2 separate regions of the Homo sapiens genome follow, and region 2 is reported to be linked to region 1. The links are microRNA targets in miRTarBase. Many come from high-throughput screens and were not tested one by one. Region 1 holds a microRNA gene; the other region holds the end of a gene's coding sequence.

Region 1 (4,385 bases):
GGTCTGCCTCTGTACTAGCAACCCCCGGGCACCTTTGCTCCCGGGCTCACTGGCACACATGCACTTTATGTTGAGGCAGTGGGCGCATATTCCTGATATACATATTTCCTGATCTCCTGAGCTCACACCAACAGCCTGGGATTAATCGCCCAACACCAGATAACACGTTATAAAGCTCACTTATCAGCTGGGCCTCACAGGTCTGCTCCAGCCTCATCACCCGAAAAGGCATTTAGCCAGCCCTGCTACTTGGAGCTTCTTATCACATCTGAAATCACCTGGGTGGCACTCATCAGAGTGCAGACCATTTATGGGCAGCTATAAAGGAACTGGATCCCCGAGCCAGGGGTGCAAAGACACTCAGACACCAGCTCTCCCTCCCCGGCCGGGGCTGGGCCTTCTGATCCCCGTGGTCCACACACATCCAATGAGTGGCTATTTAGTGTCAGGGAAGCCCTTCCGCCACTCACGCAGAATCAGACAGGAGGTGGGGCGGGGATGCAGTCGGGCAGGTGGACCTGAGCCCCCATGGGACCTACACTTCTAATGGAGTTGGGTGCGGGATGGGCTCAGAAGAGAGGGAGAGTGGTCCGGGCGGCGGGGGACTCTGCAAAGAGGAGTGGTTTGGAAACTCCTGCCTGGAAGCCGAGGAGACAAAAGACCCCTGTGGGAAGGACTCGTTACCTCGCTCCTGGGCTCCGGGGGGCTTTTCACGTCCAGATCATGAGCAGTTTCTTTCACTTCGTCATCAGGCTTTTCACACAGGTCCTCGGTTTCAGAAGTAATTTCTTGTGGGGAAGAAAGGGGACATGTCACTCGGATGATGACTTCTGCGTACACACGCGTTCCATATAAACGCAGGGCCCCCACGAGCTGGGGGATTTCTCACACGCCTCGGCCCAGCCTGAGCTCACCAGGCAAGCCCAGGGGCCCTACATGGACAATTTGCTGGCCAAACCCAGGCCCCCCCATCGGTAATCATTTGAAGGCCTCACCAGACTCAAGGCGGAAGCCTTCCCCGGGGGAGCGCCACCTGCCAGTCACAGGGAGCAGAGCTGCCAGCACCTGGCGGATGAGCTCCCCATTCAGCCCGTTTCCTGCCGTAAGCTTTAAATGCAGCAGTTTCCATCTCATCAGGGTGACTTTCCTATGCCAGAGACACATCTGTCCCAGGAAGTCAACTCCTCAAGAGAAGGGCGACGCCGCCGGCCACCGGCCAGGTAAGTCCCCGGGAAGAGCATGGCTGCACCTGAACTTCAGGCTCCCATACAGACTCCTCTGGGTGGCAAGCCCAACCCTGGTGGGGAGCAGGGGGCGGATGGTTGGAGGCAACTCAGTTCCAGCTGCCGTGGCCGAGCCGTGAGTACCAGAGGCCGCAGGCAGGTGCTGGGTCCAACCTATCTGTGCAGGGCTCATTTCGGCCCACCTGTTACACGCCTTGTTTCTCACCCAGGCCTGGTCCCTCACCCTGTCCTGTCTGTCACCTCTGTCTCCTGTGACACCCACAGAATGTGGCGGGGAGACCCCGGGGTGCTCACCTTGGAAGGTGGGCCTAACTCGCGGATCCCCCTGCCAGCACCGCTGCATGAGGCGTATCAGGTGGCTGCAGGCGCGCGGCCGGGCTCTGCACACGGGCGGCAGCTCGGGGCGGTGGCCCTTCACCACCTTCACCATGATGTGCAGGATGTTCTTCTCATCTGCCAAGGGAAGGATGCGAGTCAGGGGCTCTGCAGGGCTGGGTGGCAGCATCTCACCCTTGGGAGGAAACGACACACTCGCCGGGGGCCACAATGGGGCCATCCCCACACCACCCCAGGGAGACGGCTCCCCCACTCCGTTTCAAAGGCAGAGCTTCCTGTAACCCTCACCCTCATGGTGCGCCATGCTCTCTAGTTTCCTGGTTTTGAAATCGACCTCTTTCCCTGGGTTCTGATCTACCAGAAGGAGTCAGTGTGTTTGGTCACAGAGCAGATCTTTCTAGGCATCCCATCCAAAGGAAGATGAGGTTCAAAGGAGAACAATATCTTATGAGGCTCATTCCATCAACAGCCCAAGCCAGCAAAGGGAATGAGGCTCACGCACCATGGAGGAGCCACAGCGTCCTACATCCACAGAGACCCAACTCTCTCTACAATGGCGAAGAAGTCTTCCTCAGTTCCAACTCCAATCCCAAGCTCAGGTCCCCAGCTGGCCTCCCCTGCCGGTGCACCAGGGCTGGGATGTGTGGAAGGGCTCTTTCCCCTCAATTCACCATGTGGGGCCGCACCTGTCCTTTCCAACTGCCTTCACTAGCATGCATGGGCTCTAGCTTATTATTATTATTGCCACAACTTCTACCCTGACTGGGAAGGGCCCAGGGTGACATCCAGTGGGCCAAGTTCTTTTTTCTGCTTAGCCTGGAACCCTCAAGGTTCTTGTTCCCAACAGCCCTCTCTGCCCTCCAGATCCAAACACACCCACGCATGGAATGGCAGCTCTTTGGAGAGGCCATGTGCCTCAGCAGGTGTGGAAAATCAGCCGAGAATCACCCACGGCTGCCAGGATTCCATACAATGTTTTGCTCCACTTTCCCATTAAATCTTGTGCAATAAATATCGTTAAGTGTTTAGCAGGCTATTTCCATGATTATTCAGACTTCAAAACCAACAGCTCCTCTAAATAAAATGGAAGCAAACTGAAGTAAACGCCCGGAATGTTTCCTGCTGCCAAGCACAGACTGGAAAAGCTGGGGAGAGGCCTTGTTCTCCTGCACCTTGAACCCCCTCCTACCCATTTTTGCCTGAGGTTGCAATTTTTTGAATTTGAAAAATCAGACCTTGGCGATGACCTTGAACAGTAGGACACGAATAATTCCCATATGATTAGCGTTCCAATAAGGGAACACTAGGCATATTCAGCAATAAAGCACAAGGGCTTGAGCCTTGACCTGTCCCCTGCGCCTAGCTTCGGGTGTCACATCTATCAGACACTGCCTCATTTCACAAGCCTTCGGGCTGTAGGCCACTGTGCGGGAGAACGTACAGAAGGCAAGAAAGGCGACAGGCGGTCAGACAACACAGACGGACACCGGCCAGCAGAGGCCTGGCAGGACGCGTTCTGTGCTTTCTACTGACATTCTTTTAAAGCTGCCAAGATACTTGATCTTGCGATGCTGGAAGATCTCTTCTCACCCCAGCACTTTCCCATACATCGGCTCCTAGTCTGAGCCCCGACTAACAAGGGGCTAGGCCTTGACTCTCATCTTCATTTTTAGACATTTTCGGTCACACCACAAAATATCATGAGTAGCCCAGAAATGTCTTTAGAGGAAAAGGGAATCTGTCCAACAAAGCTAAAAAGTCCTGGATTTTTATGATAAGTAAGTCAAGGTGTGACAACTTTGAGGATGGTGTTCGGAATGGTGGCTGCCTGGCTGGGGAAGCAAACACCACAGCTCTCAAGCTGGGCAGGGGTGCCACTCCTGCAAGCAACTCCATGGCACTGAGCAGCTCTGGAGGTTGGCTGCGCAAGCACGCGGGTACATGTAATGCTCCTGAACTGTATGCTTCACACGGCTGACATGCTAAGTTTTGTTCTGTGTATTTTATGACTATTTTTTTAAAAAGTAAACAAAAAAGAATTAGCTGGAAATACCAGCACAGGCAAACCCCTGGAGACAGAAAGCAGGTGAGTGGTTGCTGGGGCTTGAGCAGGAGGAAGGGCGAGGGACTGCAGAATGGCCATGGGCTTTGCCTTCTAGCATGATGAGAATGTTCTGGAATTAGACAGTGGTAACGCTTGTTCAACACTGCCAGTGTAGTTAATGTCACTGAATTATACACTTTAAATGGCTAACATGACCAATTTTATGTTATATATATTTTACTACCACAAAAAAACTAGCTGGCACCTAAAAACATTCCATTGAACAGGCCCCTTCAGATCTGTGTCTTTTCCTGCATGCAAATTACACCACAGAGCAGCACCTATGGCAGCGTGGATCACAGGCTCTGTTTTAGGATAGAGAAAGGACAACAAGGTGTCCCCCCATTATTCCAGGAAAGACAAGCACATTACACCTCAAAGACAGGTCCACTCACCTGCAAACGGCTTCTTCTGTGTGAGCACGCCCCAGATGACGATCGCAAAGCTGGAAGAGAAACCAGGCACGTTAGCATCTGACAGCCAGAGACTCAAAGCCAAATGCACTCATGCACAGCAACAGGCGTGAAGACACCTGTTCTGAAGCCTTCCAAAGACAGAGCCATGACACCGAGATATTTCTCCTGTTTTTAAAAAGAGAAAATTCTCTATAGTGAAGCCCAGCATGTTGATAGCTCAGATGTCAGACAGACTCAAGTAACTTCGCCAACTGGGCTACAATCTTCAGGCAGCTTGAGGGACTT
Region 2 (4,385 bases), not on the chromosome of region 1:
GTTCATGTCTTGTCTCATTTAATCATCACAACCCCACAAGGTAGGTACGACGACTGCCATTTTACAGATGAGGAAACTGAGGCACAGTCCAAGCAGCTGAAATTTCAACTTGAGGGCCAAGGAAGTTTTTCCCAGACATGCAGTGGAGATGACCGGGAGGTGTGAGCTTCCAGGAGAACTGGCGCAGGCCCGGCGACACTAGTTTGGAGGCATGACGCTAGTAGTGAGGGTCTTGATAAGAGTTGAGCCCATCTCCTCTGAGCACCTGCTTTCTGCTGAGCCACAGACTCTGGCACGTTTTCAGGCCTGGGACTTGGTTTCTGCATTGCCAAAGTTCAAAGGAAACAGGATTTACAAGAAGTTAGGGCCAGTGGGGTGGGGCTCCAGAGTTAGCAGAGGGGCTGCTACTAAAGCCGTCTCATTTCTTGCAGGAAGCTGGAGCTGCCACTTATGCTGGGAACTGCTCAAAGAGAAAGCCTCAGCCTTTGGCTGCCAGGCCTAGGGCCCCAGGTCACAGAATGTGACTCGCTGCTGGAGATCCTAAAGCAGAGCCCAGTTCAAACCAGAACGCGCCCTCCTCCCACATATCCAGCCAGACCAACTGCAAGGAAAAGAAATAGTCCCAGAGGGGCAGGGACACATGGAACGAAGAGGGTGAGGCATCTCCTGACCTCCCCCGATATGTACGGAACTTCAGCCAGCACCTCCTTGTCTCTACCGGAAGGAAGTTGCACTTTGGGAGAACACCTCCGGCCCCAGCCCTGTGGAACCCCTCTCACTTTTACCCTAGCACCGAGGCCCTCTCATTGGTTCCCATTTTAAGGGAAGCCATTTCCTGACCACTCATCCATTACTTGTGTGTAGTGTGGTGTTTTTTTATCTATTGTGTTCCAAGAAATCTTGGCACAGCCCCCGTGCCCCCAGCTTAGGGTCTGCATCCTGAAATTCTCACCTGAGGAACAAAGGGCTGTGGAGAAGTTGTCGTTTATGGCAAGCCTCACTGGAAACTTCTAGACTTGGGGTCTTGAAACCCTTTCTTGTTCCTTGGTGTCTGTGGAGACAAAGAGTTGCCTTCTAGAACCCCAGCAGTGGCATCCACAGCCAGCCTGGTCTTGAGCCACTGCTTAAAGTTACTAGATGGGGGCGGGGAGGGAGGGAGACGCGCAGAGACATGGGAGGAAACATTGTGGAAATGGTGCCAAGGCCCCGCCATAGCCAGTCAGTACTTGTTATCCATCGGGAGAGACTTTGCAAGAGGCCAGGCTGGTTCCTTGACCTTCAGAGCTGGGGCATCCTTTAGGTGAGACCAGTCATGGCCTATGGACAGAGGAAGACGGTCAAGCCTCTGCCTCTCAGCCCACCTGGTTCTGGAGACCTGGTTCAGCTTCTCCTGGTGGGACTGAAGAACCAGGAAGGGGAGCGAAGGCTGCCCAATCATGTGTCCGAATGCTGGATACAGGGGGCTGCAGCTTTGAGAAACCTTCAGTATTGATGCGACGCTCTGAATTCCTTTTTCCAAGTAATTTCTTCCTTCCACGTAGTGTTTGTTCGCTATTGTCTACTGAGACCTGACTGGGAATTTTAGGATGGGGGAGAGAAGATTGTTATCTAAACAAATAATTAGGGTGACATGGTCATTATTCACGACCAGGGTGGCCACATTTTAGAACTCTCAGTGCGGGGGCTGCTCTTGTCTCCTAAGCTCCCCAAACATGCAGGACTCTTGTTTTCAAAAAAAAATGTGTCTAGAAGAAAGAGGTGGGGAGGCTGAGCTTCCGAGAACTCTGTGTGTTGGAAGATAGCCCCGAGGGCTGGAGCGGATTGGGCTGACTTTGAATCGCAGCAGCAGCACAATAACTGACATATTTCTGGAAAAATCATTTGCCCAAAGGGCAGGTCTCGGTGAGCGGAACCCTCGCGCATGCTTGGCTTCTCTGAAATCAGCTCCATCTCTGTGGTCTGGCTGCTCACAACAAAGGCCCAGGTTATTTTTAGTTCTTCAGCTCCTGAGGACGCTCCCGGAGACTCGGGCTAGTTGGGCCACCTCTGCCCGGCCGCAGTATTTGTGCTGTCCCTCGGCAGGAGTGCTCCTCTCTAGGCTAATTGCTCTTGGCCAGTGGACCCAGGGCAGCCTGGCATGAAACCAAGCAGTGTGGGTCTCCCCCACGCTTCAGCAGAGTGACCTGTGGCAAGCGATGGGGGTCACTCTCCTGCAGGGGCCTGTGGCCTCAGAGGGAATCACACACATACATAATGGTCTCATTTAAAGGGCCCCCGACCGGATGGAATTTTCATCTTCCTCATAAGTAATTTCCTTCCGCCTGCTGGTCGGTGAGCTTGTCTGAATCCTGAAGGCCCAGGGAGGGATAGGGAGGGTGACATTCCATCAGAGGGGCACATTTTTTCTCCTGACTACTCCAGCTCTCTCTCTTCCCACAAAACCCAAAGCAGGCTGTCTCCAAAGGCTAATAATTGGTTTTGAGCGTCATTTTAATTTAAATTTAGAAAAAAAAGTTCCCCAAATGTTCCCAAGTGCCACAATAGCTTAAAAGTTTAAAAAGCAAGTCCGAAACCCCAAACTGTGGCTCTACAACTTCACACGTCCTCTTCAGAGTATGTGCAAATTTGTTTTCCACAGAAGTGCAGGTGATAGGGCAGCCCTGTTCGATCTCAGCCCCATGTCTGCTCTGCCTACACAAGCTGAGCCTCAGCTGGGTCTCCCAGGCCAAGGCAGGGCACTGGAACTTGCCTGCACTGGTGAGGGTCAGGGCTCTGGAGTGACGTTAGGATGGCCCCGGAGTTCCCCTCTCAGCTTCATTACTCCCTGAAGAATGGGCCCAACCCATTCTTCATCTTTGGAGGCCTCAGTTTCCCCATCTGGAAAGCGGGGATAGCAAGCCAGCTTGTGGGCTGGCACTGTCAGGGTACTACAAGCAGACAAAAGTCTCCGTGGTCACATTTATCACCTCTGTGTTCAAAAGAGGACGGGGTTGGTAAACTTTAAATTGGTCTCTTTTTTTTGAACCCCAGAGAATGAGATAGAATCATAGGATGCATGTGAAGGATCAGAGTTTTTGTGTTGCCTCTGCCATGGAGTAGCTGTGTGACACTGGGCAAGTCACCTAACCTCCCTGAACCTCAATTGCCCACCTGGAAAGTGGAGATAGTAACACTTGCCCTGCCTATTCCAGAGTGACACTGGGACTCTTAAGCATCATGTTACATAAACAAGCACTGCAGAGCCATGCTTGTCTGGGAAGAACTCCGGATGTTTTCCATGTCCGCCTTCTTGTGTGCATTAGCCAATGTTAGACGTCTTCTTCAAATCTCCCTTGTGACCAAAGGGAGTTTATATTGCCAGGGCTGGGCTGCGACCAAGGAAATCATGACTTGCATGGGCTGTGGGGTGGAGGTGAGGGATGTACATGGGGTTGGGGACTTTAAAATGAAGGTACTCAGGATACTCCTTCTATAAGATTAATGCAGTTGAGAATGGAAAGGTGACTTTTAGAGAGGGCTATGATTTGTTTCAGTTCATGGGTAACGCTCACTTTCCGACCAACACTGCCACTTTCTAGCTGACTGACCTTGGGCCAATGACTTCAACTCTCTGAGCCTCATTTCACATGTCTGTAAGGTGGGGAAACATGGCCTATCCAGCATGGTCTTTGCAGGTATTCAAGGTGACATTGGTAAAGATCCTGGCCCGGGTCTGGCATGATGATGGTCCCCACTCCATGGTAGCTATTGTCATTTTCTGCAGAGGCCACCAAATGGAGATAATGATGTGGTTGTCTTCCGGCTCAAATGCTGGGAACAGCCAGGAGAACTTTGCTGGGCTTCACCCCTCTGTACTGTGGCTCCAGCAAACCAGAGAGGTGAGGCTGCCAGACCCAACCGGAAGTGGAAATCCTGTTTCCTGTAGGCATTTTTGAAACCCTGCTTTTTGGATCTGTAGCAAATCCAGTGCAGGCAACATTATGTGGAAATAGAAACAGGGCTCCTGCTAGGAGATTGACATTCTGGCTTTCCTTTGGAACCCCTCACTGACTCATCGCCCCTGAAGCAGGAGCCAGCAGGTCCCAAGGCTCCCCTGCTCCTGTCCCTGCCCCAGGGCGAGGTAGGAAGCCGGAAGCCTGGGCAGGCTGAGCCCAGCCGACTGGAACCAGGGAAGAGCCTGTGGGTGGGTGGAAGGGAGGGAAGGAGGCCAGATTCCTCCAGAACTGGGGAAGAGAACAGGTTTTGAAGTTGGGGGAGGGTTTGGGTTTCACAGTGATGGTTTCATGATACCCTGGAGGGTTGCACACTCCTGGTGCATTTTTGTATTCGTGCTTTGAATACAGCCCGCTTCCTTTCAACCCTCCGCTTAAAAAGTTTTGATGTTT

The links. The annotated mature microRNA hsa-miR-6814-3p reads ACUCGCAUCCUUCCCUUGGCAG and lies in region 1 at 1,698-1,719, opposite strand. An mRNA with a match to its seed (bases 2 to 7 or 8) in the 3' UTR can be bound and repressed. Matches are read on the target gene's strand: a 7mer-m8 pairs with bases 2 to 8, a 7mer-A1 pairs with bases 2 to 7 and ends in A, and an 8mer does both.
Region 2: the mRNA of DPF3 is a reported target of hsa-miR-6814-3p. The part of its 3' UTR that is shown has no 7-base or 8-base seed match.

Annotation. Positions count from the first base shown.
Region 1 is chr21:41,745,075-41,749,459 of GRCh38, forward strand. MIR6814 (microRNA 6814) reads right to left here and starts at 1,767; the gene lies at 1,698-1,767. RIPK4 (receptor interacting serine/threonine kinase 4) reads right to left here. Exons shown (of 8, transcript NM_020639.3): 4 at 4,080-4,129; 5 at 1,539-1,697; 6 at 685-788.
Region 2 is chr14:72,615,414-72,619,798 of GRCh38, reverse strand. It overlaps DPF3 (double PHD fingers 3), which reads left to right. Exons shown (of 11, transcript NM_001280542.3): 11 at 432-4,385. The coding sequence ends at 502. It also overlaps a transcript of RGS6 not described here. Among named protein-coding and RNA genes, the nearest start is that of MIR7843, 100 kb to the right of the region's middle. RefSeq lists an enhancer at 1-1,123.